2 linked regions of the Homo sapiens genome follow. The protein of the gene in region 1 interacts with the protein of each later gene in a pairwise test. Each region holds a gene or a part of one and is shown on either strand. Other genes may lie near its edges.

Region 1 (3,442 bases):
CACCCCTCCTTCCCGTGTGGGTCCCTTCCCCAGAGCAGCCAAGGTGAGCTTTTGTAAACATAACTGTGGTCACATCGCTCACATGCTTAAAACCTTCTCATTTCTCTCCAGTTAAAGTTCAAAGTCTTGTATAGGACCTGCAAGGTAGACCTAGACCCAGGCCAACTTTCCAGCCTCACATCACACCCCTCTCCCCATCTTTTGCTAAGCTCCAGCCACACTGGATTTCTTTTTGTTCCTTCACAGCACCAGGTTACATCACACCCACTCCAGGTGTGTGCATGGGCTGTCGCCTCTCCTACAACATCTTCAGGCTCTCCCCAGCACCCCCTTCACTTGCTCACCTCAGTGACTCCAACCCATCCTGCTGCAGGGCCCAGTCTAAATGTCACTTCCTCAGCGAGGCCTTCCTTAACCTGCCAGGCTGGGTTCAGCTCTCCTGTCACGTGGTCTTAGCTCCCTGTGCTTTTTCATTGTGACCCTTTTTAGAGCTGTGATATGCTACTGGTCTGATATTAGTTTAGTACCCCTCTCCCCTACTTGAGTAACCAGTTGCTTCCACATCGCTAAACCCAGCAGCCAATTCCGAGCACTCATCCTACTCCATCTGTGCAGCACTGGCACTGTCACATGGCAGCAGAGGCCCTGCCTTCTCAGGCTCTCCCCCAGCTCCCATTACTGATTCCCTGTCCTTTCCCCAACCTCTATTCACTGGAGCGCCCCATCTCGGTCCTGCCACCACTTCTCTTCTTTTTTTTTTTTTTGGTTGTTGTTTTGTTTTTGTTTTTTGAGATGAAGTCTCAACTCCGTTGCCCAGACTGGAGTGCAGTGGTGTGATCTCAGCTCACTGCAGCCTCTGCCTCCCAGGTTCAAGTGATTCTCCTGCCTCAGCCTCCCAAGTAGCTGGGACTACAAGCACACGCGACCACGCCCGGCTAATTTTTGTGTTTTTAGTAGAGACAGGGTTTCGCTATGTTGGCCAGGCTGGTCTCGACCTCCTCACCTCAAGTGACCCGCCCACCTCAGCCTCCCAAAGTGCTGGGATTATAGGCGTGAGCCACTGCCCCCAGTCACTTCTATTCTCTTTCTACTTAGTCCCATGACTTAAATACCATCTCTGCACTAGAGAGTCCAGATTTCTACCTGTAACCTTAATGTCTCCCCTGGCCCCAGACTCACCTACCCAGCTACCTGCTGCACATGTCTAATAGGCACCTCAAACTCAACACACCCAAGATTGAACCCTTGATTTCGCCCTCCCAACCCCAAAACCCAAACCTCACATGCAGCTCCTGATTACGTAGATGGTACTGCCAGCTGCCTTTCCTTCCTGCACACCCCACTTCTAGTCTGTCAGAAAATTTCATTGGTTCTCCCTAAGGACCAGCACCTCTCATTGCCTGCACCTCTGCCCCTGATCCAAGCCAGTCTCCTCCCTCGCACCATGAGTGCTGCAATGGCCTCTAAATTAGGACTCCCCACTACCATCTTGCCTTCTGCAGTCTGCCCTCTGCACAAGAGCCAGATGATCTTTTCAAGGCAGGATCCCATGTCCGCCACAGCTTCCACTTTCAAGTGGCTCTTCTCTACATTTTGAATAAAATCCAGACTCCCATTCTCATGCCCTTCACAAGTTGGCCCCTGCCCACCACCTGAGCCCCCACCACACTTCCCATTGATCACACACCAGCTTCAGTGGCCTCTTTGCTCTTCCTCCTGCACAGGAAGCTTGCCCCCACCTTAGAGCTTCGTTCTTGCACCCTATCTGAAATGCTTTTCTCCTGGATACCTTGAACCCTCAATTCCTTCAGGTCTCTGTTCAAATGCCACCTCCTCTGGGAGGCCCTCCCTCCCTTACCACTCTGTATTAATTAAATCTCCAACCTCATTCTGTTTCCTCTTCCTTACTTTACTTGTCTTCAGAGCTCTTCTCACCACTTGACATTGCATCATTGTCTCTCTGTTGATTGGTTTGTGGTCTGGCTGTCCTGCTGCCTGAGGCAGGAGCATTGTTTGTTGTGCTCACTGCTCTATTCCCAGCACCTGGAGCAGTGCCTGGCACATGGTAGGTTCTTAGTAAATGTTTATCATGTGAATGAACTATAAATGTTGTTCACCACAATTTACCCATCACCCAGTCAGAGCCTAACACACAGTAAATGCCCAAGAAAAATTTTTAAGCAGAGGACAAACGAGGGGCCAGCTTCACTGCAGCATTGACCTTTAGTGTGGCCTGTACACATTTTGCATGGAAAAGGTGTTCCTGAGATCTGTTGTAGTAAGTGGAAAAAAATATGTAACTTGACAAAGGGGCTGGTCCTACTTTAGGTATGGGCTGTGAACCCCTGAACTTTAAATTTCTCATATTCTCTTTGCAAATTGGTAAATGAAAACCAAAGCCAAAGGACAATACTCGTGAACGCACTATAGAAAAGGCCCTTGCTTTTAGAACATCCCAGTTAGTCATTTGGCACAGAGCACGAGGGCTGCCGTCCAACACAATCCAGAGGCTCTGGTAGAAAGGGCTGCCCCAGCCAGTCGTGATCTTCAGACCAGGAGGGCGCCATAGGACCTGCAGCACAAAGCTCAGCTTGGCTTCAGAGTGGATTGGATTTTGCTGTTTCCCTCCCAGCAAGCCGTTCCTCTTGTTCTGCTTTATTTAGAGTAATATTACAATTTGTTCCAATTCTCTGGGCTCACACTATATGAGGGTAAATGCAGGCAGCCTAGGGCCAGGATGAAGCCAGCCAAGCACACACACACTGCTGACCATCTCTAGAGCAATCATAAGGTCCCAGTTCATATTCCACCATGTTCCACATCCTCAGGACATGTACTCACCACCTGCCCTTTAGCTGCTAACTTTGGAGACTGCCAAATGGTTTGCCTAAGCAAGTTCCTCAGTTGCCCTGCCCCCACTGCTGTGTTGATGCAAGCAGCAAAACACAGATCCAGGGCTGTACAGACAAAATTGTGATGCCCAACAAGTGCTTGGAAACTTCCATTCTTTTTTCTTTTTCCCACCTCCTCCTCCTCCTTCTCCCTGTTTTCTCTTCTTCCTTCTTTTCTCCCTCCTTCTCTCCTCCCTTCTTTTTTCTTCTCCTTTGCTTTGGTTGTTTCCTGAATAACTCTCTCTTTAATGCAGCAAAACATACCCACATGGTTTTGCCTTTGGTGAAGACTTGCTTTGTGAAAGCTATAAAATGACAAGCCAAGCTCAGCCTCCACAGTTAAACCCAAAAGCATGGTGGAGGAAAGGGATTTTTGTCTCCTCTTTGAAGTGCTCCACTATTTTCCTTAGATGGCTGGCCCCATATCCACCCTTAGATAGGTGTTGAACTAATTCCAGACACTGAAGGAAATTCTTGTCTTCTGAAAAGACATTTTATCAACAATGGCATTTCTTCCTTACCTTATGATTCATACAGCAGTAAGTACTCCT
Region 2 (3,500 bases), on another chromosome or scaffold:
GCTAATTATTTTTTTAATATTCTTGTATTATCTATCACAGTTCTCTATGATCATAGCAGTTAACACTTACTGAGGACTTACTTTATTGCAGGCACTGCTAAATGCTTTGCCTTTGTTCTTTTACTTAATTCTTACAACAACATCCTTAAGTAGGTACGTTCACGTCCCATTTTATAGATGAAGAAATGAAGGCCTAAAAAGGCTAAGTAACTTCCTTTGAGAAGCTAAGTAACTGCCCATATTCACACAGCTGGAAATCCAGGATGTTAGATGGAAAATTCTGTTGGCAGTGCTGGTGAAAATGCAAATTGGTACAGCCCCTCTGGAGGGGAATTGGGCAGTATCACATTCACCTTTACCCCTTCTCAGCAATGCCATTTCTAGGAATCTTCCCCGAAGATAGTATTGGCAAAATATACAGAGAGGTACTTGTACATGGCTGTTCATTGCAAGACTGTAATAGTTAAAAGACTAGAAATAACTCAGATGTCTGCCATTGAATAAGCCATGATACATCCACACACTGAAGTACTATGTGGTTTTTTGTTGTTGTTGTTTTGTTTTTTTTTAAGAGACACGGTCTCACTCTGTTGCCCAGGCTGGAGTACAGTGGTGCGATCCTAGCTCACTGCAGCCTTGAAGTCTTGGGCTCAAGTGATCCTCCTGCCCAGGCTTCTGAATAACTGGCACTACAGGTGCACACCACCATGCCTGGCTAATTATTTTACTTTTTGTAGAGATGAGGTCTTTCTTTGTTGCCCAGGCTGATCTCAAACTTCTGGCTGCAAGAGATTCTACTGCCTCAGCCTTCCAAAGTGCTGGGATTTACAGGCATGAGCCGCTGTGCCTGGCCTATGTTGTTGTTTTTAAAAAGGAATGAAGAGTGTGGGTGTTGGCCATAATAAAAGAAAAAAGCCAGTAAAGAAACAGAGTATGTGCCGGGAGCAGTGGCTCACGCCTATAATCCCAGCACTTTGGGAGGCCAAGGTGGGTGGATCACCAGGTCAGTAGTTCAAGACCAGCCTGGCCAAGATGGTGAAACCCCATCTCTACTAAAAATACAAAAATTAGCCAGGCACGGTGGCAGGCACCTGTAATCCCAGCTACTTGGGAGGCTGAGGCAGGAGAATCACTTGAACCCAAGGGGCAGAGGTTGCAATGAGTTGAGATTATGCCACTGTACTCCAGCCTGGGCGACAGAGTCAGACTCCGACTCAAAAAAAAAAAAAGAAACAGAGTTTTTATGTAAGAATGGAATGGGGGAATGGGGATACAAATATAGACATATCAGCTTATGTACTTAAAGATAGGTAGATAAACTGTAAAAGTAATCATATGTAGGAGATAGTAAGGGACAGGGTTAGAAGTTAACAGGTTTCTGAACATATCTTGTTTTGTAGATTTGACTTTAGAATCCAGAGAATGTTTTACATAATTACAAAACTAAATCAAAAACTTTTTAAACCTTAAAAGTCAAAAGCAAAATGAAACAAATGGACCTAACGTGTGTCAAATTGGTAGCATAACTACACAGGAATTATTTTCAAAATGTCGTTAAAACAGTAATTTGAGGCTAGGCCTGTAATCCCAGCACTTTGAGAGGCTGAAGCAGGCAGATCGCTTGAGCCCAGGAGTTCAAGACCAGCCTGGGCAATACGGTGAAACCCCATCTCTACAAAAAAAATACAAAAATTCACCAGGCATGGTGGTACGCACCTGTGGTCCCAGCTACGGGGTGGGGAGGGGGGGTGTTGAGGTGGGAGGATCACCTGAGCCCAGGAGGTCAAGGCTGCAGCAAGCTGTGATTGTGCCACTATACTCCAGCCTGGGTGACAGAGCAAGACCTTGTCTCAAAAATAAAAAGTTTATAAAAAAGAAAGCTAGGGTTTAATCCACGTATATGTGACTCCAGAATGTTAACTCTTAACCATTGTACCATTGTTTCCCATAATGTGGTTATATCACCATATGAGGGGATTTCTGTGGCACCTAGAAAGGACTTTTTATTGTAATAGCTAAGTATTTATTTTAATATTACCTTCTATTTGTGGTAAGAAAACTACTGGAAGTTTTCCATTTAAAAGTATGCTGATATTTAAAAGTATGCTGATGATAAGCATACTTTTAACATAAATGGAATTAAAAATTGGCTTAAAGAAAAATAGATCAGCCAGGTGTGGTTCTGGAGGCTGGGAAGTCCAAGAGCAAGGTGCTGGCATCTGGTGAGGACTGCCCTCTGCTTCCAAGATGAAGCCTTGGCCGGGTGAGGTGGCTTACGCCTGTAATCCCAGCACTTTGGGAGGCCAAGGTGGGTGGTTCACCTGAGGTTAGGCGTTCAAGACCGGCCTGGCCAACATGGTGAAACCCCATCTCTACTAAAAATAACAAAAAATTAGCCGAGCATGGTGGCAGACGCCTGTAATCCCAGCTACTCGGGAGGCTGAGGCAGGAGAATCACTTGGACCCGGGAGGCGGAGGTTGCAATGAGCTGAGATTGTGCCACTACACTCCAGCCTGGGCAACAGGGTGAGACTCCGTCTCCAAAAAAAAAAGAGAAAAGAAGAATAGTTCAGTATTGGTATAGTAGTGGTAGAATTGAGATGTGACAAAAATTGTATGGCATGACAAAGTTGGAACCTTTCTAGGCTGTACTGACTCCATTGGTGTGAATGATGAAATAAGCATTTAATAAGCTTTGCTTATACCCCTAATATCCACATTTTAATTTTATGCCAGACTCTTTTGAAAAGAGAAATATTTTGCATAAAACCTTGTGTGTGTGTGTGTGTGTGTGTTGTGTATGTGTGTGTATATCTGTATGTTTTCAAAGGCCTTAACCATTATAAGAAATTACAGGCTGGGCGCGGTGGCTCACACCTGTAATCCCAGCACTTTGGGAGGCTGAGGCAGGTGGATCACCAGGTTAAGAGATTGAGACAATCCTGGCCAACATGGTGAAACTCCATCTCTACAAAAAATATAAAAATTAGCTGGGCATGGTGGCGTGCACCTGTAGTCCCAGCTACTTGGGAGGCTGAGGCAGGAGAATCGCTTGAACCCGGAGGCAGAGGTTGCAGTGAGCCAAAATCACGCCACTGCACTCCAACCTGGTGACAGAGTGAGACTCCGTCTCAAAAAACAAAACAAAACAAAACAAAACAACAAAAAACTTACAGAGGACATTTTTTATTGTTGTTACAGAATGTCATACCCAGGCTATCCCCCAACAGGCTACCCACCTTTCCCTGGATATCCTGTAAGTATTGCCACTTAATACCTCACATCCTTAAAACAGGTGTTGTTTGGGACTGGCCCATGTCAGATCTTACAGATATGCTTGAGCAGGGGTCATAAATTCAGATGCTCAGAGGTACTACGTAGAAGTGAGGAAAGGCAATTGTGTGGGGGACTAGAGAGGTCTTGCTTTGTCTATTGAAAGCTGGCAGGTGCTTAGCACCAGCCCTGTGTAGCCATGGAGGGAGGCACACTCAGCGTTGCTA

Evidence for each region. The genes of interacting proteins can lie anywhere in the genome.
Region 2: the proteins of TMEM108 (region 1) and ANXA7 interact in a two-hybrid assay, tested with the Homo sapiens proteins (one large-scale study listed by BioGRID and IntAct).

What each region holds. Positions count from the first base shown.
Region 1 is NC_000003.12:133,391,391-133,394,832, forward strand, and holds part of TMEM108 (transmembrane protein 108 isoform 1 precursor), read left to right. Parts: intron 1-3,442. UniProt on the Homo sapiens protein: Transmembrane protein required for proper cognitive functions. Involved in the development of dentate gyrus (DG) neuron circuitry, is necessary for AMPA receptors surface expression and proper excitatory postsynaptic currents of DG granule neurons.
Region 2 is NC_000010.11:73,400,559-73,404,058, reverse strand, and holds part of ANXA7 (annexin A7), read left to right. Parts: intron 1-3,201; 5' UTR 3,202-3,202; coding exon 3,203-3,256; intron 3,257-3,500. UniProt on the Homo sapiens protein: Calcium/phospholipid-binding protein which promotes membrane fusion and is involved in exocytosis.